2 separate regions of the Homo sapiens genome follow, and region 2 is linked to region 1. The links come from fine-mapping of genetic effects on gene expression. A gene starts in region 1. The other region holds a variant in brackets. All regions are shown on one strand. Distances are between the middles of the regions.

Evidence for each region. PIP is the estimated chance that this variant, and not a neighbour inherited with it, causes the effect.
Region 2: its variant is fine-mapped to the expression of ARFGEF3 in nasal epithelium (TOPMed, PIP above 0.99).

The regions. Positions count from the first base shown.
Region 1 is chr6:138,155,297-138,170,543 of GRCh38, reverse strand. ARFGEF3 (ARFGEF family member 3) reads right to left here and starts at 8,605. Exons shown (of 34, transcript NM_020340.5): 1 at 8,373-8,605. The coding sequence starts at 8,457. RefSeq lists a silencer at 8,503-8,732 and an enhancer at 7,826-8,796.
Region 2 is chr6:138,286,169-138,301,415 of GRCh38, reverse strand. It overlaps ARFGEF3 (ARFGEF family member 3), which reads right to left. Exons shown (of 34, transcript NM_020340.5): 16 at 14,500-14,715; 17 at 14,232-14,342; 18 at 11,448-11,598; 19 at 9,363-9,683; 20 at 7,290-7,423; 21 at 4,461-4,606; 22 at 2,631-2,810. Among named protein-coding and RNA genes, the nearest start is that of PBOV1, 75 kb to the right of the region's middle. RefSeq lists an enhancer at 13,969-14,468. The variant C/T (reference allele first, on the strand shown) is at 7,405.

The DNA of each region.
Region 1 (15,247 bases):
TTCTCAACTATCTGCATGCAAGTCCTTCATATTTTAAAATCCTTTTCCCTTGAGAGCCCCAGAGATTTCCCTGGACCTTGCAAACTAGGAGGGGAAAGTTAAAAGTTAGGGCACATTTCCCTAAACAGATAAAGAACGAATAGTTAAATTCCTAGTCTGAACCACTGAATCTAGTTACAACTAAGATACAATATTCTTGTAATAAAAATAAAGAAAAGCTGTTTCCTTGAAAATACTGTTTCAATATCCTTACACAATAATTCATACTTGTGAAAGACTTTCAAGTTCACAAAGCACTTACACAACATCTTATTATTCTCATACACATTTGTGACACAGTAGATTAAACTTTTTTTAAAAAATTACAGTATAGTTAGGATATTGATTGGAAGGCTCACATCCAAATCTTGTTAATCCAACCTGGATGTTCAATACTTTGCCATTGTTTGTGGATTTTTCACACTATTGCTGCCTCCAATTTTAGAGATAATGAAAAGCTCACCAGTCTCTTCCCCAAAAAACTGTACTACTTCAATCCTTCCAACTTGTCTCCAGTCTTGCAGCTGAAATTGTGTTGACCCCTTTCTTCACTCCTTGGAGTCAACAAGCCCTGTCTATCTGAACTATTTTCATTGGGGAAGGAGAAATGTCTCTTCCCACCTTGCTCAGAGATCAGAGAGAATAACAAATGTGAAATATATACATATATCAGAGACTCAAGGCTAAGAACAGGCCTGATAGGATCTGGGCTTGATATGGCCAGTGGGGCAAAAGAGTGGATTTCAGAAAGACAATTAATCAGCAAAACAGAAAGATGAGTTCAGCAGGGTTCTTGGTTCTGTGAAGACAAGGCCAATGGAGGAAGATGAAGGACTGAAGTCAATGCTTAAGATGAGACAGGATGACAAGAAAGGGAAGCCCTGAGATGCAGGTACAGGAAGCAGCTCAAAGGCCACACAGGCCAGTGCAGCCCACCAGTTAGCACAGCAGGGACTGGCACCCAGGATGAGCCGATGCTGCTCCCCAAGGAAAGGCAGTGACAGTGAACAACCAGATCAGCATGGTTTTCCCGCAGGACAGAGGGATATATAGTCAACCAAGGCTGGGTAACAGTGCCCAGCTCTATAAGGCTAAGAGCAAGCTAGAAGAAAAGGAAAAGAGAAAAGGCTGTCACACAGCAGCCACCATGAAACTACAGCTCTAAGTGCAGTGAGACTCCCAGGCACATGGGATCAGTGTGGAACCCAAGGCGAAGAGCATCCAAAGGTCAAGGAGAAAATGGCCTGCAGCTTTGCTGTAAGCACCCAGGACAGAATGGTAGCTGGGGAGAGGGCACCATGGAAGCATCAAGAAGGAAAGCAAAGAGAACCAGGTTCCACTCCCAGCTCCACTCCAGCTTGTGACACTGTGGGATGGGGGCAGGTCACTTATCCTCTGTAAGTTTCAGTTCCCTCATCTTTAGAAAGAAGACAATGACACCTTCCTCCCGGGATGCTTGTGAGGAGCTGATAGGATCATGATCATAAAGGGCCTGACACAGTCCTTAGACGCCAGTGCCAATTCCTGTCTCCCTTCTTTGATCTCTCACTAAACACTGAACCAGGTCCTGGGCTAGGGACCCAGTGGTGAGAACAGACACGATCCATGAATTCATGGAGTGCACATTCTCATTTCAAAGCATGATAAACGCCAGGAAGGAAAATACAGGGAATTAGGCAAAAGTGGAACAGGAGGTCCTACTGTGGACTGTGAGGTCAGGGCTTCCTGCTGGGGGTAATGAGACCACAAATGATTTATTTAAAGTAGATAAGGAGAGGTCACTCCGAGTGGAGGGAATAATAAGTTTGAAATGCTTGGAGAATCTCAACATCTTCCCTGACTCTGTCCTGCCACTTTGGTCCAAGCTGTCACCTTCTCTCACTTGGATGACTGTACCAGCCTCTGTTCTAGGCTTTTAGCTTTTGGGCTTGCCCCTGAAGCTGCAGTCTCTGCTTAACACAGTATCCTGAGAGACCCTGTCAAGACCCAGATGAGAGCATTTCCTCCACCCCAAATGACTCCCCATCTCATCCTTAGAGAGCCCAACAAGGACTTTCATGATCTGGTCCTCACTTCCTACTTCTCTCCCGTCGCTCCAGCCCCCTGGCTCCTTGCTCTTTCCCAAAGCCATCAGATGTTTTCCCAACTAGGAGCCTCCCTTTTAGTAAGGTTTTCCGTGAATACCCTATTTAAATGGCAACTCCCTCTTTATTCCAAGTACCTCCTATCTTCTTCACTATTTTATGTTTTCCCTTTCTTAGCTCTTATCACTCTCTTTGCTGTCATGTGTATTTTATTTATTTATCTTGATTACTGGCTGTCATCTCTCCAAGAATCTGTAAACTCTTGGATCTTTTTGCATGTTTTGCTCACCATGTTATCCCTAACACTTGGAACAGTACCTGGCACATAGTAGGTACTCACTAAATATTTGCTGAATTAATGAAGTAAGAGGGAGCACAGTGTAGCTGAGTAACTGAAAGAAGATCAGTGTGGCTGAAATTCAGAGAGCAAGGACCCCTCTCTCTCATGAGGGTCTCAGAGGGGGATGACCCTCTGTCTCATGAGGGTGGCATAGCACAAGGCTGTGGGGCAGGTAGGAGCCAGGCCATGTACGGCTGGACAGAACACACCAAGGACTTTTGTTTTTATCCTAATGGGATGCTATTCAGTGTTTTAACATGGCATGTCATGAAAAGATTGGGGTTTCCAAGGTGACACTACTTGGGAAAAAGAACTAGAGCAGACAAGGAAGGAGCAGTTAAGAGGGTGTTGCAGAAGTTCAGATAAAAAGAGAAGGCAGCTTATTCTGGAGAGCTGGCAACAGAGGTAGAAAGAAGTGAACAGGCTTGACATATATTTAGGAGGTAAAAATGAGCAGAGCTTGGGTGACGGACTAGGTAAGATGGCAAATTACAGAAATGTATCAAGGATGACTCTAGATTTCAGGTCAATGCAACTGGACAGGTGATGACATCAACTGATCATTTAGAAACACCAGAGGTGAGTGAGGTTGGGCAGTGAGGTAGAGGTGGGGAAGAACACACAGTCACTTTGAGCCTTGTTGAGCTGAGTGCCTGCAAGCCATTCAGGTGGAGATGTTCAGCAGGTAGCTAAGTTGCGGGGTGTGCGTTTCAGAGCACTGGTGTCGACTAGTGATATAAACACGGGCATCACATTCTCAGAAATGGAGCTGAAGCTGTGGGTATGTGTGTGTTCAACTCCAGAAGAGCTGGGAGTAAGAGATGAGGGCTCAAAGCTAACCCTTGAGAAACTCAAATATTTACAGCTGGGGACAGAATCTGGCACTAGCAAAGGAGACAGAATGGCTCAAGAACCAAGATGGAGCTGGTAGGGTGTGATCATAGAAGTCAAGGTAAAGCAGGTGCCCAGTTGTGTCCAGTGTCACCAGGAGGACCTCTGAGATGGGAATGAGAATGGTCTGCCAGCCGAATGGCTGTATGTTACTGTTCTTCAGTAACTGTGAGTTGGTGGGATGATGGAGGTGAAAGGCAGATGACAAAAAGATGAAGACAGAGTAGAAGGTGAGAACACAGATACAATTTCTACACTTTTTAAGAAGTTTGGCTGTGAAGTAATCACCTGTGGCTGGAAGAAAAAGCAGATGGGTAGATAGAGAGAAGGGTGCTGGTTGGATAGATGTTCCCTCTTCCCCTACTTGGCCTTCGTACCTCTAGTTTCTTTCCCCGCTCCTCCATTTTCCACATTCATTCTGTATAAGGCCCCTGATAGATATAAAATACTAAAAGTAGGGCTTGGTTGCTTCCAGCTCTCCTGTTCTGCAATTCTATTTCATCCCACCACAGCCTAGCTTGCAAGCCCCCAGGACTGCCAGTTTCTGAAGTTCTTTCTGCCTTTCCCCAAGCCAACCCTTCATCCAATTCATTCCTTTCTACTCCCTGGCCACGCCATTCCTCACTAACAAAAACAACCAACCAGATAACACTAAATAAAGAGAAGATACATACATATGCCTTATTAGTTATTCTGCAGCCATTAACACTGATTTTCAGAGAAGTGTCATGACAAAGTAGACAGAGTAGAAGAAGATGCTAAAGTTAAAAAACACATGACAATATGCCATATGCGGTATGACCTTTTGCAAAGGGAAAGACTCCAAAATGTCAACAGTGTTATCTCCGGATAGGGAGACTGAAGATTATTTTAATTTTTTCTTTATGTTGTTCCATTATTTGCAACATTCTAAAGTGAACATATATAACTCTTATAAATAGAAAAAGATGAATATTATTTAAAACTCAAACAAGTAGTTAAAGTATTGATTTACTTATTGAACATCTGCCTTCCACTATAGGTGCAGAAGCAACCAAAGAAGCATAAACGGCAGTCCCTGTGCTAAAGAGCTCACTACTCTGCTGACATGTATTGTTTTGATTGACGAGTATCCATTCCCCTGGCTTTTGAAGAAGCATCTTAATTTTACTTCCAGGAAGCCATTTTTCCCCAGCTCTGGATTTCAGTGGAACTTGTAGCCTAGGCCTAAACCAGTTATTCTACTTCATTCTTTGACTAGAGGACTGGTTCAAGGATACACTCATGAACCATCAGGACAAAGAGAACAAGGGAAACCAAGGATCAGGCAGGAGTGACTGGAGAAGTCCAGCTTTCTTGATATGGTCTAAATATGGTGATGATCACCTATCTCAAAATGATCTGAGTGAGGAATGATGCCTCTCTCCTTTGAGGGTCTCAGAGTCGGATGACCCTCTCTCCTATGGGGGTCTCAGTCTCAGTCTCTCATGAGTGTCTCAGTGGGGAGTGACCCTCTCTCTCCTGAGGGTCTAAGTAAGGGATGACCCCTCTCCCATGAGGGTCTCAGAGGAAAATGACCCCTCTCTCCCATGAGGGTCTCAGTGGGGAATGACTCCTCCCTCCCATAAGGGTCTCAGTCTCAGTGAGGGATGACCCCTCTCTCTCATGAGGGTCTCAGAGGGAGATGCCCCTCTCCCCCATGTGGGTCTCAGAGGGGGATGACCCCCTCTCTCCCATGAGGGTCTCAGTGGGGAATGACCCTCTCTCCCATGAGCGTCTAAGTGAGGATGACCCCTCTCTCCCATGATGGTCTAAGTAGGGGATGACCCCTTGCTCCTATGAGGGTCTCAGAGGGGGATGATCCCTGTCTCTCACAAGGGTCTCAGTGTCGGATGCCCCTCTCTCTTATGAGGGTCTAAATCAAGGATGATCTCTCTCCCATGAGGGTCTCAGAGGGGGATATCCCCTCTCTCCCATGAGGGTCTAAGTGGGGGATGACCCCTGTCTCGCACAATGGTCTCAGAGGGGGATGCCCTCTCTCTCTCATGAGGGTCTCAGACGGGGATGCCCCCTCTCTCTCATGAGGGTCTCAGAGGGGGATGACCTCTCTCTCCTAGGAGGGTCTCAGTGGGGGATGCTTCCTCTCTCCCATGAGGGTCTAAGTGAGGATGACCCCTCTCTCCCATGATGGTCTAAGTAGGGGATGGCCCCTTGCTCCTATGAGGGTCTAAGTGGGGGATGACCCCTCTCTCATGAGGGTCTACGTGAGAGGTAACCCCCCTTTCCCATGATGACCTAAGTAGCGGTTGACCTCCCCATCACATGATGGTCTAAGTGGGGGATGAGACGTGTTTTCCTGAGATGGTCTAAGTTTATTGTTGCCTCTTTTCATGAGATGGTCTAAATGTGTTGATTCATGAGCCCAAAACTGTGGAGACCCACGCAGAGCATGTCAGTCAACCCACAAAGAGCAGGACAAGATCCCTGAAACAGTGTCTAATTCCTAAATCACAGCTATTCTTGTAAGGGGTATTTTAGTTAAAGGAGTAAATAAATCCCGTTTTGTATAGCTCAGCTTAAACTAGCTTTTTTGTCTCTTGCACCCAACATATTTGTCAATTACACTGCCCGTAAGAGCCTACCTGTGCACACAATCAACTATTATCCAAAATAGTAGGTACTCTAAGAGAGTCATCAAGGCAAGGATCTGAACCCAGACAAACAACTTATCCTATTGAGGAGCTCAGGGAATGTTTCCTAAACAAGATGGACCTTGCCAAGTCTGAAAAGGGAATTCCCTACAGAAGGACTAGCAAGAGCAAAGGCAAAGAGAGAAGTGTGCCACACAGCATGTTCAACAAAGTGCTGCAGCTGACTGCCACTAGATTGTTGAATCTTGGTTGGGGAGTGACAAGAACAGAGGCTGGGGCTAGATTCTGAAGAGCATTCTGAGGAATTTACACATTAATCTAGAAATAAATTGGGGGGTTGAAGAGTGACAGGTGTTTTGTAATCTAAACAGTGACGGGCAGTGGAAATGGACTGGAGTGGGAAAGGCAACAGGAAAACCTATCCCTATAGGCCTTTGTTCATGTCTCCAGCATGCCCTTCTAACAAATTCCTTACAGGGAACATTTTATTCATCCATATATCCCATTGCTCATTACCAGGGAGGTCTTAATAAATGTTTCCTAAATAAAGAAGCGACGGAAAGAAGGAACCCATAGCTTCCCCATTCTTCAAGTGAAATCTACTTCAAAAGCCCCACCAGCTCACACCAATTCTCCCCCAATCCATGGACAACACATTTATCCTCCCTTCTTTGACTTGTTTTCCTGGTTTGCCCAATCCAACTGCACAATGAATGCCCTGCACTATTATTTAACTATTTCATGCACTTCTGTCTTGTCTTGCTAATGACAGAACAATCACTGGGAAAGGAAGTACATCCACTCAGGCTGGTTTCTTTCAGATTTGACTCGAAAAATTTACCTGCCTCAATGCTCAGCCTCCCCAGTGGCTTTAAAGGACCTAAACTCAGCAACGTTGTGGTTTCACTTAATAAGATGTTGATGTCAGTATTTAAACTTATTAAAATACTAGATTAATCTCCTCCTCCCTGTTTATCTAAATCTGCTTAATTTGCAGCAAAATAATAACGAATACTAGGAATGGCATGTTTAAAGCACAATTGGGCCCTGCTTTATCATGTTACCCAGCCATCTGTGACCCTTCATTAGAGGCATTTTGGAATCTAGCTTCGAATCACGCTGCTGAATGACAATGGCAACGGCAAAAATAGTACTGTGGCTTTAAGAGCCTTGCTGTTCTCTCAGATTTCTGGTCCATTTTTCTTTAACAGTAAGCTAGAATGGTCAAGTGCTGGTTCTACCTACAAGACAAACTTCCTAGACAATATTCTAGACAATTTTGTGATGATAGGCACAGGTTTAAAAAAAGATGCTGCTATAATTACCTGTACACACACCCAAACATATGTGAATTAAGACCATCTACATATTAAGAGTCACCTAAACCACTCTCAAAATTTTACATTTAGTGGAAAACCTGCTAAAGGCTCTTCTCTATCTCAGGCTGCATCAAAGCACACACAGTGTCATGACAGACAGTGATGGTTCTTGGTTGCAAGGGAAAGGGAGTCAATTTCATTTTTCAATTGAGTGGCAACTGAGGCATCACATCAGGCTCCAGCAAGGCAGAGAGAGGAGCCCATAGAGCTAGCTGCGCTGGCTTCTTCTTGGCCTTTCCTTTCTAAAAAGCATCACCATCACCCAAAGTATGCTTCTGATCTATTTGCATTACCATCCTGACCATTTTGATTGCCCAAACCCCGCCTAACTGAAATGTCTTTCCGTTTTTTTCCGCTGCTGAGTTCTGCAACCTGAGTCTGATGAGAAACACAAATTTGCTCCCTGGAACTTACTTCAACGCTAGCACAGCTCACAGCCCTAAAATCCCACCTGTCTGAAGGGCAGACCACAACAGAATTGCAGAGGTAACATGATCCCCGCCCGTATGTTATTTTTCATGTGCAATAACCAGGAAAGCTAACACTAAGCAAGCTGACCTCTATCAGGAAAATCAAATTAAACAAGCCTTTCCTTCCTGGTTCCACTCGCCAAGGATTCGACATCGGGGTTGTTGGTTTAACTTCCCTTTTCCCCAGAGGCGCTTCGCTGTCAGGCCCCAGGATTCGCACCGGCTCCGGGTCCTGCCTAACTCGGCGATGGGGAAGCATCGTCCCCAGCGCCGGGACCAGGAGAAGGGGGCCGCCAGGCAGGGAGGACAGCGGTTCCCGAGGAAGGTTTCGGAGAGTGAAAGAGACCGGAGGGGAGGCGGCTGATGTCCACGCCCGAGCCAAGACTCTCAAATCCCACATCAATTTCCCGAGGCGACTCTCGCAATCGCCAGAACGGCACCCATGACCGACGCTCCGCGAAAGCCCCACGCGCGGAGGCGCGGGTTCAGCCCCGGCCGCGCGGCCCTCCCGCCGCGGCGAGCAGGTGCCGGACGCTTACCCAGGGCCCAGGTGCAGCTCTCCTTGATGGCTTTGTACTTGCTCCCGGACGCCTCCTTCTGCAGCTTCCTCAGGATTTCTTCCATCTTGACCTTCCAGGCGCCGGGCCGCCGCCCACAGGGAGAGAAGCGCGGGCGAGCCGGGCCGGGGAAGCCGCCGCTGCCTGGCCCTGGGCGCCTAGGCGGCCGCCGCGCGCGCCCCCATGCCGCCCCGGCGCGGATGCTGATGAATCACGCCCGCTCCATGCCGCGGGCCACGTCAGCCCCGCGCCCCGCCCGCCGCCCCGCCCCGCCCGCCTGGGTCAGGTGCGCTCCGCTCGGCGGCGGCTGCGGGCTGGGGCCGGAGAGTGAGGCTGGAGGCCGCTGACCTGACCGCCGAGGCAGGCCCCGCGGGCGCCGCGCTTAGCGGAAAGGTGGGGACGGATGTCCGGAGCTGGCTCGCCAGCCGCCGGGAGGGAGCGCCTGGTCCGCGGCGGGCGGCGGGAGGCAGGCGGGGAGGGGCCTCGCCGCGGTCTTCGCACCCCCTGAGCCGACGGTGGCCGCGGGCGGAGTCGGAGCGGCCCAGCCCGGACACCGGGACCCCCAGCGTGGTGCAGGCGCCGCGCCCGCTGCATCCCGTCGTCTGCTAACCGGAAAATTCTTGCGTTCAGTCACTAACAGCTTTTTTGGGCCACTCCCTGTGCCAGGCTCGGGCGATGCAGCGTTGCACACACTGTGCCCCTGCCTGCAGGGAAACTCCAGTCAAGCTTTCAACACGCGGCGGGCGGTGGGCTGCGGTGGGGCTGGGGTAGAGCTTGATATGCCCAAGGAAACCAGGCCCAGAGAGGCTGGGTTACTTCCCAGACCAACAAGAGTTAGACTCCAAACACGTCCTGAATCCAAAGCCCCTTCTAAAAACCCCTATCTCCTCCCCTTCCCATCCTCTCTTGCGCTGAATTGCTGCCCTGTGAAAAATGTGGTGCACAAGGGCCGCCGCAGCAGAGGGCTTCTCATTGGGGTGAAAAGGGGGAGCCCCAGGAGACTCACGCGGGCGGTGGGGAAGGCAGTGTGACAGGGCACCCCGTGTTTCCTTTTTCTTTGAAAATGTTCCTGTGGTGGAAGTGAGGATGATGGACTGCAGAGGGGCAGACTGGCAGCTGGGAGAACAAAGGTTCTGCAGGAATCTAGAAACCAATTAGGCCAAGGGTGGGTAGAAGGGGAATAAAGGAAAGTATGTCAAGAGATATTGAAGGGTAGAAACAATAGGATTTAATGACACAATAGGGGAGAGACGGTGTATATGGGATGGCTTCCAGGTTACTTGTTTAGGAAATTGGGAGGATGGTGGCCCCATTCTTTAAAGAAGAGAAGATAAAAAGGGTTTGGATTAGGGGGGATATATGAGTTCAGTTTTGAACATGTTCAGATTGAAATGATAATGAGATACTTGTAGATTTTTTTTATGGACAGGAACTCAGGATAGAGCTCTGGGAGGGATGCCAGTATTTGAAGGGTGGTAAATATAGGAGTTGTTGATGCCTCGAGTTTGACAAAGGTTGCACAAGAGAGGGAGTGACGGCCCCCCTAATTCTCAAATCATGGGTACAGGAGCAAGGGCCCAGGGAGGAGGCTGAGAGGAGCAGTCCGAAATCCGAGGTGTAGGGGGTCAGCCAGGGGAGGGACTGCCATTGGAGGGTGTCCAACACATGGGGATGTCAGACTACTCCTTCGGCGCTCTTGGTACTGAGGAGGCAAAACCTACAAAGTCCCAGCCCCCAAGGATGCTTCTACCGCTACCCTCACGCCCAGTGAAGCCATCATTTAAAGAAAGGTTTAAAAAAAAAAAAGTAAAAACGCCGCAGCAGATAATGTACTTGGGTTAAAGAAAATTGTTAACTATTTGGAAAAATATATAGATCACAACTTTATATCGTGTAGCAAAATAAATTACAAATGTATTAAAAATTAAATTTAAGAATTAAATGATGAAAAGTTTAGAAGAAAGCATAAGTGAATATACTTATCTTAATGCATTAAGATTATTTCTAACAAACTAAGGCAGAAACTGAAGGAAAAAAGGTCAATAGATTTGACTATTTGAATATTTAAGACCTTTATGCCAAAAGTTTCATACAAAATTAAAAAGCAAATGATACTCTGAGGGATGGATTGAAGGAAGAAAAGATGATACCTCTAAATCTTAATTATATGTGGATTTATATTTTTGAATCTATTTTAAAGTATTTACTAGTTTTACAATTAAAAACAATTTCGTTTAAGCTGCAAACTAGGAAAATGTTTATATTAATGTCAGACATATAAAGTTTGAATAGCTTTGTTAAAAAAAAAAAGCTTTAACAAAGAATTAAAAAACAAATGCTCCTTCTTTTTTAAAAAAGCCAATATATATAAAGTCAGTTTACAGAGGAGAGAATACATATGACCCCATAAACTTATAAAAAATGTTCAAGTGCCTAATAAAGAGAACAAACTTTTAAATAAGATGCTATTTTCTATTAATCAAATTGACTGAGAGATTTTTTAAATGTTATTGAAGGAGCTGAACAACAAGGTCCTCTCATGTCTTGGGTGCTGGTCAGAGTGTAACTTGGTACTACATTCCTGGAGGGAGGGAGCCTGGATGTGTATGTGGCATAGGTATAGCTTTGACCTAACAATTCCACTTCTGGGAATTCATCCTAAGAAAGTGATTATGGAAATGGATAAGGATCTTTCTACAAGCATTTCAGTGTGTCTTTCAATTCTAAAAAAAGAGAAAACTAAATATGCAACAAGGATATGGATAGATAACCCATGATATATTCATAAAGCATCATATTATATAGCCTTTGAGAATAATGTGGGGGACTAGGCATGTTGGCTCATGCCTGTAATCCCAGCACTTTCGGAGGCTGAGGCAGGCAGATTGGTTCAGCCGAGGAGTTTGAGAGCAGCCTGGGCAACATGGCAAGACCTCATCTCTACTAAAAAAAAAAATTGTTTTTAATTTAAAAAGAATAATGTGGGAGAGAAATATTGAATAATATGAAAAGTGGTGTCGGGGGCAGTGGCTCACACCTGTAATCCCAGCACTTTGAGATGCCAAGGCAGGTGGATCGCCTGAGGTCAGGAGTTGGAGACCAGCCTGGCCAACATGGTGAGAACCCCCCTGCCTCTACTAAAAATACAAAAATTAGCCGGGTGTGGTGGCACATGCCTGTAATCCCAGCTACTCAAGAGGCTGAGGCACAAGAAGTGCTTGAACCCTGAGGCAGAGGTTGCAGTGAGCTGAGATCTCGCCACTGCGCTCCAGCCTGGGCGACAGAGCAAGACACTGTCTCAAAAAAAAAAAAAAAAAAAAAAAAAAAAAAAAAAAGACAGAGAAAGAAAAAAAAAAAGAAAAGTGGCTTATACTATATACTTAAGTAAGCAAATTGTAAAATGCTATGTACTTTTGTATACTACATGATTCCAATTTTATTTAAATATTTGATGTAGATGTATATATAAGTTCAAAAATACATGCATATATGTACATACATATCTATCAAAAGTACATACAAAATATTAAGTGATTATCTTTGATGGGCTTATAGGTGAGTTTATTTTTCATTAAATATTTTTACTTTTATAATCAGAAGTGTTATTCTAAAAAAAAAAGTGGCACAAAAATGAAATAAAAGTAGTATCCAGGCAACAAGGTCAACATCCAGAGAAAGGACAAAGATAAACACAGAAAATGATGTAATGAATGTGAGAGAGTTAGGATCCCGTGGAAGCCAGACCCGGGAGAAATGATGACTGCAGCCTGGTTGCAGTGGATTAAGAGCTGGTGAAATCACACGGATAAACAACCCAGTGGATGGCTATGAAGGAAAGTAAACACCTTTCTACTTTTTTTCTATAACTCACAGTAGAAAATATGCTTTACATTATCATCCAGTGTTTACATACATGTATAGATATGTTAAAAAACTGAAACAACAGTTTTAGGTATAAAACAGTACATACTGTTAACTAGAATAGTTACTACTAAGCATGATTTCATTCACTGCAGCAGGCATACTTGCCTGTTCCTAAATTCATTCTGGGTTGCGGGCATGAGGACAATCACAGTGGTTTGCTCTGTGATGCCTATTTCTTTCCAATGTTTTTAGTTTTGTTGCTTAAAAATTCTGGCTCACACAAATAAGTTGCTGTGAATGCTATTAATAACAACAGTGAACTCTGTTTAGCAATGGAAAGTCTTCTTTAATCTTAATCTAAAATGGCTATAAACTTATAATCATTCTTCAATGTATTAAAGTATTAGAGATTAGCTTTCTTCTTTGAGTATCAACTTTAATATGGATTCAGGATTTTGGAAAACAGATCTTTTATCAATTTTTTCCTCAATATTTCAAATTTCTCTTTTTGAAATTATTAAAGTTTATAACAGAGACGTAATATAACTAATATCATTTTTCTATTCAAAATGTCTTCATTAATTTTCTCTTTATGTGTTACAAAATTGTGCACACATAGTAACCACAGTGATTACTTAAAATGTATTGGTTAGTGTTGGATATATTAAACATCTTGAAATATATTGTTACTTTTTCCCTGTAGATCCAAATTCAGTTAGTTTAAAATGTCAAAAAAATTAGTCCTATATGCAGATTCTTCTGGTGAAATATCATCTTCAAAATGCCAAATGAGATTGCTTTTCAAATAGGAAAATATGAATCCTGTTCCTGAGTTCATATAATTTAATGAGTACTTTCCTCGTAACAATCAATAACTTCAGTACGATGCAACATGTACATGTTATTTGATGGAAAGGCTAAGTTGTTTTAACAAAGACCCAACAATACAGTGGTTTACAAAGCATAGACACTTACTTCTCTCTTCAATTAAACCCTGAGTCAGTGGTTGAGGTTGGTGCAGCAGGTCCCAGGAGATTAAGTGACCATATACCTTAAATGTTACTGTTTCCTCATCCCATAGGGGGTTGTTCTCATTTGTGTGTCTCAAAGATATGTACCAGGCACATTGTGTTCTAGCCCATAGGAAGAGGAAAAGAGAGTAGAGGAGTCCATGCCTCAGAGGCAGAAGTTACACAAATCTCATATATTGCATTGGTGAAGACAGAGTTGCAGAGATATACCTGAGTAATCACAGCTCTCTTCCTATGGCATAGGGAGGGGAATCATTAGCCACAGATCCAATTTCTGAACAAAACATATCAAAAATTGAAGGTTCCCTTAATAAAATTAAACAACTATCGTTACTTTTGTTTTCAAGTCCAAAAGATTTAGTGCAATTGTTAGGATGCAAAATCTTTGTAATGTATAAAACACAGATTTTAAATAATGTACAGAGTAGCTTCTAACAATATTTTAAATTATCTTTCCATGTCTCCTGGTCGTATTTACTTCTGAATCACTCACAATTCCGTTACAATTTTCCAGTTGAACTTATGTTTCTCAAGTAGTTTTGTGTTAGGTTAAATGGAAACAACACAATAAATCCTTTATAAAAATCATATTTTCATACATATTTGGCATAAACTAAAGTCTAAGTAATGTGAAATATTAGTGTTCTCATTAAGTGGAATTATACAACCTGTGTCTGCCTGTATGTGCCTAATAAGTATAAATTCTATTCTGTATATTCTTTAGAACTATAATATGACTTAGAAGTATAATTTTAAATTTCTCTGCTGATTTATCAAGAATCATATTCACTATAACCATGTATGCTGAGAACAACTTTTTTAGGAGCTGTTTAATTTTTTTCCTTTTGCTGCATACATGTGACTAATTATGATAGTAATGCTTTTTCATTAAAACCAATGTGAAATCATGTTGACAAATTTACATCTTTTTTTCTTTGAAAATATTTGAAGGCCTTATGAACAAATTTGGCTTGCTATATTTCAAGTGATTTTTTTGGAAGATCTTAAGCTTTTATTTACAAGAATGTCATTACAAATAATACATTTTCAGTGAGTTTTGAGTAATCGACAAGCTATACTTTATCATTATTAAAATGATTTGCACTTCTTTGGCTTATAGTTCAAATAATAGAATTTATTAATTTAAAAAGACATTTTTCTTAATGTTGTCACTATGTACATGTCCAAATCTGGTAGTTCTGCCAGAACATGCCTCTGTGTTTTTCACACGACTGTTTTTATTTCTTCTAATAATAAAATAAACTGTGTTAAGGATAGTTGGTATAACTTTGATTAAAATGTACAATTATCACAAGGTTGAAAAATGCCTGACAGTTATGCCTAATTCAAAAAGCACACTGAAATCTTCTAACTCATAGCCAAACCTTGGTGGAAAGTCTTCCTGCCTTTGCCAAGACTAGATAAAGTTCTTCTAAACCTCACTTTATAATTAGCTATAAATTACATTGACATAAAATGAAACTATAAAACATGAACTCTCCTGATACAATTATGATCAATTCCAAAAAATCAGCTGAGACACCAGTGAGCAGAAGAGTGACTGGCTGGCAGTTCCCAGCCAATGCATATATTCATTACCTCTCATTCTCCAGCTGTCACTCAACTCAGTTGTCTGCAGGATTTGTGGCAATGTGGACACCTCCTGCTAGGAATATACGTGTTGCATTCTGATATTGTAGGTTCCATACTAATTCATTTCTTAATATATTTTTATGAAACAGACTCATTAATTTCACAACCCACTCATGGGGAGAAGCATGAAATTTGGAAAACACCAGACCAGAGGAAAATTTGTGATTAAACAGCCTAGTGGTGGGGAGTATATTTATACAGTGAAAGAAAAAAAGACATAAAAGCAGGGTTGAAAAAAGGCAGGAGGATGCCAGCCTAATGGGGGAAACAAGTATGCTAAGAAGATGGGAAAGAGGGTACCTAGAGTAT
Region 2 (15,247 bases), 130 kb before region 1:
AGCCTCACGCTGGTCAAACTACTATTCTTGCCAATAGAGCTTGGGAGTAAAGGTGATGGCTTCAGTCTTTGTCAAGGAAGTCAGACTCCCACTATTCTTAACCAAAGTTCTAGCAAACACTGTTTTTAAGAATAAATGCTACTCAATTTGTTGTCTGCTTTTGGTCAATTTCCAGACCCCTCAGATGGTTGCTTTGGACAATTTTGTCCTGTCCTGTTTTATGCTTGATTTTTGCGGGGAAGGTTAACCTAACTTCTTCATGTTACCATAGCCAAAGCTGCTTCTGTCCTTAAGCTTCCTAAACACATTTAAGCACTGTTATTTTAAAATCTGTCTCTGATAACTCTGATATCTGGGTTCCTGTGTGTGTTTATTGTTTGTTTTTTAAACTTTTGTTTTCAATGACATGTTATTTCCTAATGAGCCTGGTTATTTTTTATTGAATGCAAACGTTGCACCTGCAAATCAAGAAATAATTTGAAGATTATTAATAGAATGATGTAATCTTCTGTCAGAAAGGCACTAGAAATCTCAGATTACCTTAATCTCATGTCAGGGATTGGGATTATTTGAAGTTGGGTTTATTTTCTCTTATGACTAATCTATTTAAGGTTCACCTTTCTTTCTAAGATGTCCCTTTTGCCTCAAGATCCTGACTCAAGATGCGAGGAAGTTACCAGACTTGGGAGGTCCCAGACTGCAATTTTGCTGAGCTTCCCCGTCTTTTATTATGTTGGTGCAAAAGTAATTGCGGTTTTTGCTGTGATGGCAAAAATCACAATTACTTTTACACCAACCCAATATCTTCCTTTTTTTAAATTAGTAGATTCTATTTTTAGGAAAAACAGCCTCAAATACCAGGAAGACTACTCTGGGTATTCTTTTTCTCCCAGATCTTGGCCTTGTAGTTCTTCACTGCCCTATAGTATGTCAGTGTCTTCGAGTGATTAAAATTTTTTTTATCCAACTTTTTTTAGTTGTTCCCTGTGAGAAAGTTGATCTGAATTACCTAGTTCACTCTTATTGGTATAAAGTCTTAGGTGTTAACCTATCTAGGTTAACTTATCTTAGATGTTAATGATCTAACGTTTAGGTGTTAACTTCTAGGTGTTAACTATCTAGGAGATAACTATAGGTGTTACCTAGGTGTTAACTTATCTTAAGTGTTAACAATCTAGTCTTTAGGTGTTAACTTATAATTTCAATCCTTTATTTCCTTAAACTTACTAGGCTTTGTGATTTAATATTTTGCATGGAAGATACCAATATTTCAATCCAATTCTTTATAGTTCTAGTTGTACTATCTGTTGTTTTATCAGTTCTCTCCGTTGCCTTGTTTTCTTGTGTGTTTTGTGACTTTTTTAAAAATACTGAGAGCTCACGTACCTTGAAACTTTATTTGTGGGATTCTTTTGTAGCCTGAGTTGACATGAGTTTCTCTCGGGGGAGTTTTGTTGCTTCTGTATGGTGCCTGTGTATTTTCTCAGATCCTGAGGTGGTGTAATTTCATATACAGATCACATAAAAGGGCTAGGTTGTAATAATAAATCCTGGAGTGCTCTTTTTAAAAAACTTTCCATTAAGAGCCAATGTTAGAAACAAGCTGATAGTATCCTCAGGAAGTTTGTTTTAATTCAACCTTGGCCTGATTGAACACCAGCTTTGTAAAGTTTGCGTTGAGATTTGTTTTCTGTTTCTGTGCACTCACGTCTGGGATGACCAGAACTTCTGCTCCACTTGCTAGCAAATTCCCTCGCGGGAAAACCAGCCTAAGGGCTCCGCTTACTTCTCTGGCTTCCCATTGGCACTCAGTTTTGGGGCTTCCTTACTTTCTTGCCAGTGTGTCAAGGTATTTAAAAGAAATGTTTAAACCTCTATTCAACGTTTTTGGTGGACTTCAGAGAGAGAGATCCTGTATTTCTAGCCCACCATCGTGTGAAATACGAAGTCTCCAGTTAGTTTCTTTACCTTGCCTTCAGTAGACAGTATGGCAGCAGTTAGGAATATAGGCCAGGTATAAAGAGATAGGCCAGCAGATTGCCTAGGTTCAAAGCCCAGCTCCACCAATCACTGATTATGTATCCTTAGTCAAATTGCTAAACTTTTCTGTTTTTTTTTTAATTGCCTAGTTTCAAATCCCAGCTCCACCAATCACTGATTATGTGTCTAGTCAAATTGCTTAACTTTTCTGTTTTTTTTTTTTTTTTTTTTTTTTTTACAGAGTCTCGCTCTGTCACTCAGGCTGGAGTGCAGTGGCGTGATTGATCTGGGCTCACTGCAACCTCTGCCTCCCTGGTTCAAGCGATTCTCCTGCCTTAGCCTCCTGAGTAGCTGGGGTTACAGGCGTGCAACACCACACCTGGCTAACTTTTGTATTTTTAGTAGAGACGGGGTTTCACCATGTTGGTCAGGCTGGCCTTGAACTCCTGACCTCGTGATCCGCCCACCTTGGCCTCCCAAAGTGCTGGGATTACAGGTGTGAGCCACCACGCCCAGCCCTGCTTAACTTCTCCGTTACAGATTCCACATAGGATTATTGGAAAGAGTAAGTGTGCGAAGCTCATAGAACCGTGCCTGCCACTGCACTCAGTAAGAGCCAGCTATGACGCTGATGACCATGTCACACTGACCTGGTCTTGGACGTCCTCATCACACAATTCCAGCTGCATAATGCGCTCGAAAGGTCGGAAGAGTGCTTCATTGAAGTGAAAATGAGGTGGCTCATTCCAGTCAGTGAGGACTTCTGTCAGTATGTCATGGATGAAGGAAACAGCCTTCTGAGACACATGTCTTTCCTTATGGCAAGCAGCCTGCAAAATTCACGAGAGAGTGGCTCACCATCAGGACAGCAGACAGTGAGAATGGTTTCTGAAGGCTTTCCTACCCCACCTCATTACAAGGAGGTGGAAGCAGCAATTCTGTTAAAATCAAAACATTCTAAGGGATAAGTCTAAACAAACTGCATACTAAATTGCATTTTTAACAATTCAACCAGCTTATCAGGTACAACCTCAATTTCATGTTAATGTTTCTAGAAAAAGGAAAGTTTCCGGTAATTTCTTTTTCTGTAACATGACAGTTTTCTTGAATGGTACAGAACATGCTCACTGTAAAGACACCAGAACCCAGTCTAGGAATGGCTCACAGTTTCATCTGAGCTGTGCCCCACATGTAGGAAGATCAGATGAGTCATTTGTCCCTCAGTGAGGTGAGGGACAAATTGCCACAGTAGCTCTAATTGGTTTACAGACCTCCTGGTATCCATGCTCTTGAGTAATCCTTTCCTGTACTGGCCCTGGGCTTGGATGTGTGAGTTGCTTTGGCCAGTGGAACACAAGCAAACATCATGTAAGAACAGAATTAAAAAGTACTTGTGATTTGGGGTTTGCCCTGTTGTTGCTCTTTGGAACCCTAAGAATGCCACGTGAACAAGCTGGGGCTGGTCTGCTGGAGTCTAGTCTACATGAGAGACCATGAAAAGAGAGACCTATTTGTCTAGCCTTCCCAGTTAAGGTCATCATGAACCATCTGGCCCCAGACTTTGCACCAGCTGACCATAGATACACAATTAAAGCCAGTGAGATCTGCCACCCCTGGCCAACACCAGAACTACCCAGAGAAGCCTACCTCAAATTTCTGACTCATGGAATCATGAGCTAAATAAATGGTTGTTGTTTTAAGCCACTAGATGTTGGGGAGGCCTTATTGTAGAGTAAAAGATAACTGATAGACTTTTTCCCCATGACTACATTGCTATTTTCTACCCATTTTGCTTACTAGAATGTTCTCAGGTTAGTAATTTAAGTTCCAAGAAATATTTTATGATTTATCTCTACCAGATAAAAGCAAAAGGGCTATTAAGAATAGTTATCACTGCAAAGCAGGGCAACAGTTTTCCCTGTCAACTTGGAAGTGGCCAGTCCTCATGTATTGAGATGCTTAGATGTAGAGCTGCCATAAAACTGATCACACGAACTGCTTTCCTTTGGAGAGTGAAAGGGTCTTAGTATTAATTTTGTTGGGAAAACCAAGACATAGGGTTCCCTGACTGAAAGGACACTGTCCTGAGTATATTTAGCTATTAGAAAACAGGGACTGGTAGGAACCAAAGACATTGTTATATTTATGTATAAAAATAAAGCTATTAGGAACCATCCACAGTCTTTCTGTTCCAGGCTCAGGTTGATACCAGATCATAAAAATGAAAACTAGCTGAGCTGTACAATTGCAAAGAAAGAGGGTCAGAGTGAGACTAGGGTAGTACTGCCCTTTGGGGTGATTCTTTAGATGCCATGAGGTATAACCAGAAAACAGTGATGTTTGTGACCAGGTGATAGGCAAGTTCCCACTGCCCAATGGCCACAGTGCTTTGCCCCCATACATGACTGCAGGCCCCCATGCTGGCTCTGCTGGTCACTGACTTAGCAGTTCCAGCCTCTTCCCACCTTCCCAGTGCTCACCTCCACCAGGTGTGGGGCCACAAGGCTCCAGCAGCGCATCACGTGGAGCAGGGGCCGTGCTTTGCTCCGCACAATCCTCAGCATGGCATTCCCCAGGCGGAACAGGTGGAGGGCGCTTTTTCGGTCTTGAGTGGATTTAACTTCTCCTACAGGAAGGCAAGAACATAAATGCCAGAAAGCCAAAACTCAGACATAGTCTGACCTATTCAAGCAAAGAGAGAGGTTGAAAATCTAGGTAGGACCAGTAGGGTAATTCGATATTGGCTAACCAAGGGAGGAGGGAGCCCTGGATTCAAGAAGGATGTGGTGGTTCACTTAGCAAGGCCTGCATCGTCCTCTCACTCACCACTGTAGCCCCGGTACCTGGGACGTGACAGGTATGATCAAAACTTGATGATAAGAGGGAATGAGGTAGCGGTTCAGTAGGAGGGCCGAGAAGTCCGACCGTCTGGATTCGAATCCTGGCACCATTTAGTAGTTGTGTTATACTGGGCCAAAGATTTTCCTCTTTAATGATCTCATCTGTAAACCTGGGGATAATACTGCCCACTCCTAAAATTGCTTTAAAGATTAAACGTGATAATACGCATAAAGTGCTCAGCATGGGCCCAGCACATAGTAACTGACCAACATTTTTAGCTATTATTATTACTCTTGTTACTGTCACCTTTCACTGTCATCATCTACTTTGCCAATCCTTAATAAACCTCTGCAGCCTTTGCCAAGCAGGCCTGGTCCCCCTGCTGCTCAGTAACATGCTGTCTGGCCTTCTCTGTCTTGTTTTAGTACCATCCTTGCCTACCCTGATCTTGGGCTACTTCTTTGCCAAGAGGGCGGGGCTCTCTTGGTGCCCTAATCTTGAACTAGGGTGAGAAACTATGGGGGGCGGGGTTTGCCACCTTCTTGGCAAAGAAGGTGACAACCTTCATCTTCCCCGCTCTCTCCCTGCTCATGTCCTATTGCCTCTCCTCTGCTTCCTACTGGGGATGTGACCCAAGTCTAAACACAAAATTCATTTCTGTTTCATATATACCTTTACACACAGCCTGAAGGCAATTTTTGTACCCCTTGGGGACCCTCAATAAACTGTGTTGCATGCCTGCATTTCCAGTGTGACCTATCACATGAGGTCAGGTGTGGAACTTTCCACTTGTGGCATCATGCCAGTGCTTAAAAAGTTTTGGATTTTGGATTTTTGGATTAGGGATACTCAACCTGTAATAATCATGGATGTTTACCCTGCATCAGACACTGTGTTGGTTCTGTAAGTCTTTAATAACTTTAATTTTTAAAGCAATTATATTTTCTTTCTTTCTTTTTTTTTTTTTGAGGGAGTCTCACTCTGTCGCCCAGGCTGGAGTGCAGTGGTGCAATCTCAGCTCACTGCAACCTCCACCTCCCGGGTTCAAGCAATTCTCCTGTCTCAGCCTCCCGAGTAGCTGGGGCTACAGGCACATGCCATGACACCCGGCTAATTTTTTTTTTTTTTTGCATTTTTAGTAGAGACAGGGTTTCACCATATTGGTCAGGCTTGTCTCGAACTCCTGACCTCAGGTGATCTGCCCGCCTCGGCCTCCTAAAGTGCTGGGATTATAGGCATGAGCTGCCACACCTGGCCTATATTTTCTTTTAAGAAGAAAATATAATTATTGCTATTTTACAGAGTAGAAAATTGAATGTCTGAAAGGTGATATGACTTGCCTCAGATGCTGTGGCTGGTGAGTGTTGGAGGCTGCATTTTATATTCCTACCTGATTGATTCCGAAGTAAGTCTCCCTCTTTCTAGATTTACCGACCCTTCCTGGCCCCTGCTCATTGTGTTCTTTGTAAGCTCAGAGTCTACTGTTTTCTCCAATGCGAAAGACTTTGAAGGTTACCCCCAGGCTCAGAGATTCTCTGAAAGTCTTATGGGCCTGGGAGGTTGGCTTTATATAGCTCAGGTTTTAAAGTCTATTAAAAACTAGTGGGGAAACAACTGTGGTTCTCAAATCTAAATCTGCAGCAAGGGTGAAAAAATCAAATATACTACACTTAGAACTTTAGATTCCTAAGGATAGAAGGGACCTCAGAGGTTATGCAGTCCAACATGTCACTAAGGTGCATCCCCAGCACATGGCTCCCGGTCTCTGCCTGAACTCATCTGGGACAAGGTGCTCACTGTTTCAGGACAACCACTTGTGCTCTTGATGAACAATTCCATCTATGAGCAACCTGCCAATGCTTTGGGACCCTTGGACAATTCAGAACAACTCTACTTTGTCTTCCACAAGACTGGCCTTCAAGAGGGCCTTATTTCTTCACCTGGCCTCATTGGAGACAACAGGGATACTGACCCATCATTAATGGGATATGCCTCTGAGATCAGTTTTGCAAGAGTGGTAGGCAGTTTCCTCTTTCACCACCCCTTTTGGAATTAGTGGTTGCTTCTGCATATCACAAACCACCTCTGTCCCACTGGCTGGACAGAGGTGTGTGGTGTGGTTTGTGATACGCAGAAAAGCTCCACCCTCATGTGAAGGAAGCTATCTGCACCCTAAGGAGCCACACAATTTCTACCACAAGCACAAAACTTAGCAGAACAACCTAGTCCAGCTCCAGTGGGAGTTCTTATAGATGTGGTAGCAGCAACGTTTCCATTCACAAAGAGTTACACCACCCCTCACACAGGATGCCTCAAAATCTGGAGACAAATCTATACTTGGGCTTAGCTTGTGTGAGTGTAAGCAATGGGAATGTGGAGTCAAATCTTCAGGCACGCTGCTGGTGATAGAGGCCTGGGCTGTTTCCTGCTAACTTCCTGGCATATGGTTTATTCAGGGAAAGAATTACCTGGCATTGCCAGAGAGTAATCAACTGTATCTGTAACAGAATGGAAAAGCTGAGACTGCGATGCTTTCTTCAGCTGGTAAAGAAAACCTCCCAAGGCCATGAGGTTCAACTTATC[C/T]GTAGCATCTTCAAAGAGCCTGGATGCAAACAGAAAGAGATGTGTTCTTTGGAAACAATTCAGCAAGGTCTTTATGGCAGAATGATTATGGTAATTTTGTTGATGTGATTAATGGAAATGCTGTGTAAACACTGTAGACAAATGTATGGTATTATTCTATCTATTCTAACTGTGTACAAGTCTGCTCTAACTGTGAGATTTTAATTCAAAGGCACAAAGAATATATTTAAAAATATCTTTGTGCCCTCATGGTCTAGCTCCGCTATGGTAGGCACTCATAAAATGCTTGGCAAGAAGCTGAAAGATGGCAAGGCGTTGTTCCCAGAAACTGAGTAACTGGGAATGGAATCTTCAGAATTAGCTTCAATTTCATAAATGATGTCAAAAAACCCCAGTAAATTAATGAATAAGGTTTTGTTTGTCTATAATTTATGAGTATAATGCTGGAAAAGATACAAAAACAGCTAAGAGTAGATCCTGTAAGCCCCCCTCCAGGGCGGGGACTGGCCTCATACACACCCAAAGGCCTGGATGTGATGGGAACTCAAGTATCTATTTGGAAGAAAGAATGTTCCCCAATATGATGGGTCTTACAGGTTCTTTTTCTTTCCCACTCAGCTGGGCACAGACCTTGCCAGCAGAAGGATTTAGGAAGGCGGGGAGCACAGTAGCAGAATTTAGGGGAGGATTTGAAGGTCACGGGAATGAAGAATGGTAAAGATCAAATATCTGTTTTATGAGGCCACAACGAGCAATGTGCCAGGTGAGCCTTCCATGGCTCTTGGGTCACCCTGCTATCTGCCCTCCAAGCCTAGTGACACCGCAGGGCAAACAGTGCTGTGGGGGCACCATGAGCTGCTTCAGGGAGAGGGTCTCTAATAGAAATGGAATCATGAGTCCTTCTTGAAAGAGGAAAATGAGACACGCAAGTTTTAAGATGGGAATTAGCGGATTAAACATTTATAAATTATTGAAACAAATATATTTTTCTTGCTATTTTGTAACTTCCAATTTTGATACCATTTGGTTTCTGGGTCCTATTGACCATTTCTCCTCCCTCCTTCCTAGTAAGAAAACAGTGATGAATATTATATTCCACCTGACACCTGTATATTACTTTCCAGATTCTAAAACATTTTCACAGCCAACTTGGATAAGCAGCAAAAAGCAATTATGGTAGTGGGTTAGTAGTTGGAGAAATTGAGCCTCAGTGCAGCTATGTCTACAGACATGACCCGGCAGCTGGGGAGTGCAAAGTCAGGACAGGAACTCAGGTCAATCTGAGTCCTGGCCCAGGGAGTGCTCCTCCCACTCCTGTCCCCTTCCTGACGGTCCTCCCTGTGCCCGTGCCGGGGGTCTGGGACACAGTGACCAAACACTGAAGAGGTAAGTGAGGTGGAACTGTGTGTGATTGGTGACCAAAAGCACTTTCAACCTCAGGAAGTACCACCAAACAGTTGAGGCGATTGGTGATTTTCCCTCTTCACCCTCGCATGGTTGTTGGGCATCAATAAGTAACACATGCATGTGGGATTTTTGAAAACAGCCATAATCATAATAGAGGATTTTTACCATTTTCCAAGCTCCGCTCCAGGTGCATCAAGTTACTAATTAATTTACCCTCACAACTACACGGTGACAGAATTACTTTTAAAAAATGACCCTATTTTACCAATGGAGAAGCCAGGCAGGGCCCAGGGAGGTGAGGTTGCCTGAGATCCCAGAGTAAGCGCAGCGCTTTGACCCCAGGTGGCCTACCTCAGACCCTCCAGTGTTAGTAGAAAACGTTTCATTCCAAGTATGGATGTAATGGTAGAGAGAACTAAGCTTGAAAAAGATGGAAGAGATTTAAGTGATTGGCTAACAAATGGGTCGTCCCTGGCATGACTGAAACCAGATGGATGTGGGTGTCGCCTGGTAAGCAGGCTCCCGGGGCGTGGGAGGCCGGCGCCGCGCACCTGTCGGCTTGCGTGGAGAGGGTGAGCACCACCTTGGCCGCGCTGCTCCCGCTCATGAGGCTCCCGCCGCGGAAGTCGGAGGCCCGACCCCGGCTGCCTTCCCGGACGAGGTCCTGGATGGACAGGGGCTGGACGACAGGGGCCGTGCTCAGGGAGCGCCCCTGCTCCGGGCTGTGCTCGGGGGGCGAGCCCTCACACTCGGGGTCCCCAAGGAGGCCAGCGCTTCCAGTGGCCTTCTGGGGCTGGCTGATGGTCAGAGGGGGCTGCGAGGCACCATCGCTGAAGTGGTTGTGCTCCAGGGTGCCCACGTATTCACACACCCTAGAAAGAGCACAGACAAGCAGCTGTTAGGCGCTGCAGCTCACCCCGGCAGCTCCATAAACCCCACAGTGCCAGACAAAGGAAATGCAGCCAGCTCTGCAAGCTCCCCAGCTTTCCTCTTTCCTGTGATGACAGTCAGTCCTTCCCTCCTGTGTTCTCATGTCACACAGCATTATTATTAGTAGTATTTGAGTTGGACCAGACAGCCTTGAAATGGGTAAAGGATTATTTGGGTTCTCCCACCCCAGGCTGGGAGAAAGACGGGCAATGAAGCCCAGTTCATCCAGTCCCCCTGCCTCATCCGGCTTACTGGCTTATCTGCCCTCCTGCTGTTTGAGCCATTTTTCCCCAGGCACCCTCTTTCCCTCCATATAGTGCTCTGATTAGGAGTTGGGAAGCGTTTCCCTACGATGGGATCCCAGAATGGCTATACCTATGACGGAGAGGCCAACTAGCCACAGTGGGTTCTGCCCAGCCACGTCCTGCCTGGTCCCGACGGCGCCACATAACTCAAGTCTGGGTGGGGTGGGTGGCGGCCGGGTGGGAGGGCAGTCACCGAATTATGGCAGACACAGAGAAGGGTCACCACATGTGCTACAACTGCCAACTCCTAAATGGTTTGTTCCCAACAGAACCTGGGACGAAGATGGTTCGCAAGGTCCCTCATCTCGGAGTAAGTCTGTTTACTGGTAAAGAGCATCATGGATAATCCACTCTGATGTTCTAGAATCAAGGAATTTTTCAATCCCTTACCCGCTGCTTGTGTACCAGGAGAGCCTTTTTATTTTCTTTTTTCTTTTCTTTTCTTGTTAGAGCAATAAAGAGCAGCAGGTCAGCAGCCTTCATAATAGAACCATTTTGCTCAACAAACACTCATGGCTATATTTGCTTTGAAGACGTGAAACTGAACCCAGCTCTGGCTGGTGCCCTGGGCCATTGGCCATTGCCCTGGCCACTCTTGCCCCATGCCTGCTCTGCCTAGACCTGGGTTTGGAGTGAGTGTGAGGCATGTGCTGCAGAGAAGGAGAAGGAACAGTGTGGCCAGCCCCCGCCCTGTTCCATGGGCAGTGCTCCTTCCACGGTACTGGGTCTGTCCTGATGCAATGCTTGGGGAGACGTGCTTTCAGTCTTAGTTGTAAGAGGACTTGGACTCTGGAGCTATTGCTGGTTTTCATCTTACAGGCACTGTGCACTATATAACTCACTGGGAGTTTCTTTTCACTTTGATGCTACAATGCTTAGAGCTAAATTTTTGGCCTGTCTTTGGCAGAGGTGTACGATTTTTTGTTTTGTTTTGTTTTGTTTCAGTCTAGCTAAATTAAAAGTAGGTATCTTGTATTTTATGTATGCAAATAAGCTATCTGAAATCCTTCTTTAAGTAAAGAGGACATTGATAAACATATAGCAATGTAATATTGAGGAGACATGACCAGTTTTAGATTTGCACAGTATTCACTTAGTCATCTCAATCAATTATTTAATTGGTTTTTCTTCCTTCCTTCTCTCATAAAAATGTCAATAGAAAAGTCACAATTCCTCAGACCCAGTTCTGTCCCCTGTTCTTCAAAACATACATTCAGTTGGGCCCTTATTCCCTCTTCTCTTTTCACGTCTCATTTGAAGTTTAATCAAACTCTGTGAATTGTTATAATTGATTTACATGCTGGCAGGCTCTTAAGGCCACCCCTCTCCACCTGCCACAGCCCACTCCAGGTTTCCCAAGGCAGGGTTAGTGCCATCTGGGGGTGGGAGCCCGTCATGCACCTGAACACGTGTGGCCAGCAGTCCGGGTTGTGGCTTCCCATCTCCAGGCCTACGCTGAGGATGGCCTCCATGCACAAGACGTGGGCAGTGTGCAGCCACACCCCCTGCACCTTCCCAATCTGCTCCAGTTTCTGCTCCACTTTTAGTTTCACTGTGCCAGAAAGACATTTATTAAAATAACAGGTTGAGTAAGGGAGACAGAAAGAATGAAAATGAAAGAATGTGTGTCATGCAAGGGCAAAAGGGAAAGGACAGACTTCAGTGGCAGCAAGCACCTCCACAGTAGGTCCTTGCGGACCATCATGCAAACCACCCAGCCAGCAGGTCCCACGTGCTGGTGGCCCCAGCTCTCCAGCTCCAGAAGTGGGATGGATCCTGAGCTGGCAGGTGCCATTCCTTCCAGGCCCTTTCATGGGCTCTGGGTCAGGCACAGCAGTGTGGATGGGTTTCATGAGCCAATTCCAGCTAAAACCATCTGGGCCCAGACCTTTCACCCTTCCCAAAAATTGGTCAAATGGAAGAATTCCTGGCTTTCTGCAAGTTTTCTCTGAGATTATTGTAATGTTAGGCTCTCATTATGATCATCATCTCTAAAACAACTTATTTACGTATATTTTGAGCACCAGAATGACTGCTCTATCACTGAAAATGACCAATTTCATTTCATCCCTTGAGTTTGTATTTGTGAGCTCCAAATAATACTTTAAAAAATTGTAGCCTGGGTGTGGTGGCTCACATCTGTAATCCCAGCACATTGGGAGGCCAAGGCAGGTGGATCACCAGAGGTTGGGAGTTCGAGACCAGCCTGAACAACATGGAGAAACTCTGTCTCTACTGAAAATACAAAATTAGCCGGGCATGGTGGCACATGCCTGTAATCCCAGCTACTCAGGAGGCTGGGGCAGGAGAATAGCTTGAACCTGGGAGGCGGAGATTGCAGTAAGCCGAGATGGTGCCATTGCTCTCCAGCCTGGGCAACAAGAGTGAAACTCGGTCTCAAAAGAAAAAAAAAATTGTAGATGACTAATGAGAAAGAATGCAGAAGGTGACTTCAGATGTCAGTAATGCAAAATGCTAAGGCAAGGCCAAACCACAGTGTCCTCCTTGAACAAAGGTTTCAAGTCATTGCATGTGGTAGGATAACTAAGTGATGGTCCAGAACCCAGAAATATAGCAAGCCAACCTCAAAGGAATCCAAACCATCTCCTAATGTAAGGAGCAAAGTGATTTTTAGCAAAACATCATTTGTCTCATAAATGTGATACTAATTTTATTTATTTATTTGAGATGGTGTCTCACTCTGTTACCCAGGCTGGAGTGCAGTGGCTTCATCTTGGTTCACTGCAACCTCTCCCAGGTTCAAGCAATTGTCCTGCCTCAGCCTCTGAAGTAGCTGGGATTACAGGCACCCACCACCACGCCCAGCTAATTTTTGTATTTTTTAGTAGAGACGGGGTTTCTTTCACCATGTTGGCCAGGCTGGTCTCAAACTCCTGACCTCAAATGATCCGCCCACCTTAGCCTCCCAAAGTGCTGGGATTACAAGTGTAAGCCACTGCGCCTGGCTGTTTTATCTATTTTTTTGAGATAGGGTCTCACTCTGTCACCCAGGCTAGAGTGCAATGGAATGATTATTGCTCACTGCAGCCTGAACCTCCCCAGGCTCAGGTGATCCTCCCACCTCAGCCTCCCGAGTAGCTGGGACTACAGGCACATGCCACCATGCCTGGCTAATTTCTGTATTTTTAGTAGAGACAGGGTTTTGCTATGTTGCCCAGGCTGGTCTTGAACTCCTGGGCTCAAGTGATCCGCTTTCCTCGACCTCTCAAAGTACTGGGATTACAGGCGTAAGCCACTGTGCCCGGCCTTAATCTTATTTTTTATTTGTTTTTAATCTGAATATCGTGGTCTTGGTTTTGTGGTTTTTTTTTTAAAGAACTGTGAATGTAAGGATTTTTATGTAGTTCATGGTTGTAAAATACTTAAGTAAAATTGTGAGACTCCTTTTTCAGTTAACGCTGGGGATCTGTGAGAGCGATTTTGTTTTCAAATGGGTCTCTAAATTTTATTCAAGTCTGAGAAACACGGACCTAAATTGTGTTTCTCAGCTAAAAATGTACAGCTGACTCAGTGACTTGTTACTGTACATATCTGATAGTAGTTACACAATTTGGACCAAGCTGGCATTTTTCCTTTTGTTTGCTGCCTGCCTTGTATCTTCTGTTGCTACCAGGATGGTCATTCTTTTCCCTTAGATCCAGATAATCATCAGCTTCACCGACTCACTGATTTCATCAAGTTAAAAATCAGCCATTTCTCGAGTTCACAAAGCTCAGATTTTTCTCTGATAAGAGCCTCTTCTTCCTGAGCCTCCCCTCATGAATTTTCTTCGTCTGCTTAATTTCCCCTTTAGAAAACTGGCCAATCTGCCTTCCCCACTATAACCCGAAGGGTCTTCAAGTGTGCACTTGTGTGAAGTGCCAAAGCCAGTGACTAGATGACAGGTGTGAACAGTTCAGCCAGGTGGGTCCCCCTGGGCCTGCTGCACTTTCCTTGCCACCAGGGGTCAGTATGTCTCTCATTCTCCAGAGAGATCTTCTGTAGGTCACCTACATGGAAGAGACCCAAGCCTGTGGCTCAATGGGATCTCGTGATCAGTGGTGTATACATACCGGGCATCACACACAGAACAGGCACGAGTGTTGGCTGGCGTGTGTAGGCCTGTGCAGGTGTGTGCATACTGCACCCAAGGCACCAGGTGGGTTCTGGCCCTCCAGTTGTTACCTTGTGTGATGGCATCACTGGGTTCTTGGGCCTCCCTCTCTTCTTTTTCTTCTTGGACACAGGAGGCAGCTGCCATCTGGGCAAGGGCTGAGGCGCAGTTAGCAGCAACGCCTTCAGAGGAGACACACAATGACTTCTTGACTGAGTATATCCTCTAACCATTCACCTAGCAGAACCCCTTCTAAAGGGTCCCCCTGCCCCACCCTGCTGGGTCATTCCCAGTGAGTTCTGCAGGACCACGGCCAGGGAACACTACTCCCGCTGGTACCTAGAGCGCAGCTCAGCCGTGCGGCTTTCCGCAGCCCGTCGAGGCTCATGCAGATGGCGTCCCGCTCCTTCTGGTTCTGCTCTTTGATGCCTTCAGCTCCCAGAATGAAGGCCAGCCCTTTGGAGCTCCCCGCCATTCGACCAGTCAGTGGGGTTGATAAAGTATCGATCAAGTTCTTCCAGCAGCCCACCAGAATATAGCGAGCAAATGCCACGCCTGGAACATGGAGGGGTGTGTGTCATTTTCTAGAGACAAAAACAACCTGGCAATGAATGACATCACATTCTCTTGCTATCAAATGAGCAGTACTCAGTTGCATGCAATTCTACAACAGGAAATATAACAATGGATTATATGGGATTATGTTTCACTTTGTTCTTATAAATAATAAATGTTGCATTATCAGCTGAATGATGCTAAGTAACTTCCATCAATTACTTTTTCTTTTTCTTTTTTTTTTTTTTTTTGAGACGGAGTCTCGTTCTGTCACCCAGGCTGGAGTGCAGTGGCACAATCTCGGCTCACTGAAAGCTCCGCCTCCCGGGTTCATGCCATTCTCTTGCCTCAGCCTCCTGAGTAGCTGGGACTACAGGTGCCCACCACCACACCCGGCTAATTTTTTGTATTTTTAGTAGAGACGTGGTTTCACCGTGTTAGCCAGGATGGTCTGGATCTCCTGACCTCGTGATCTGCCCGCCTCGGCCTCCCAAAGTGCTGGGATTACAGGCGTGAGCCACCGGGCCCGGCC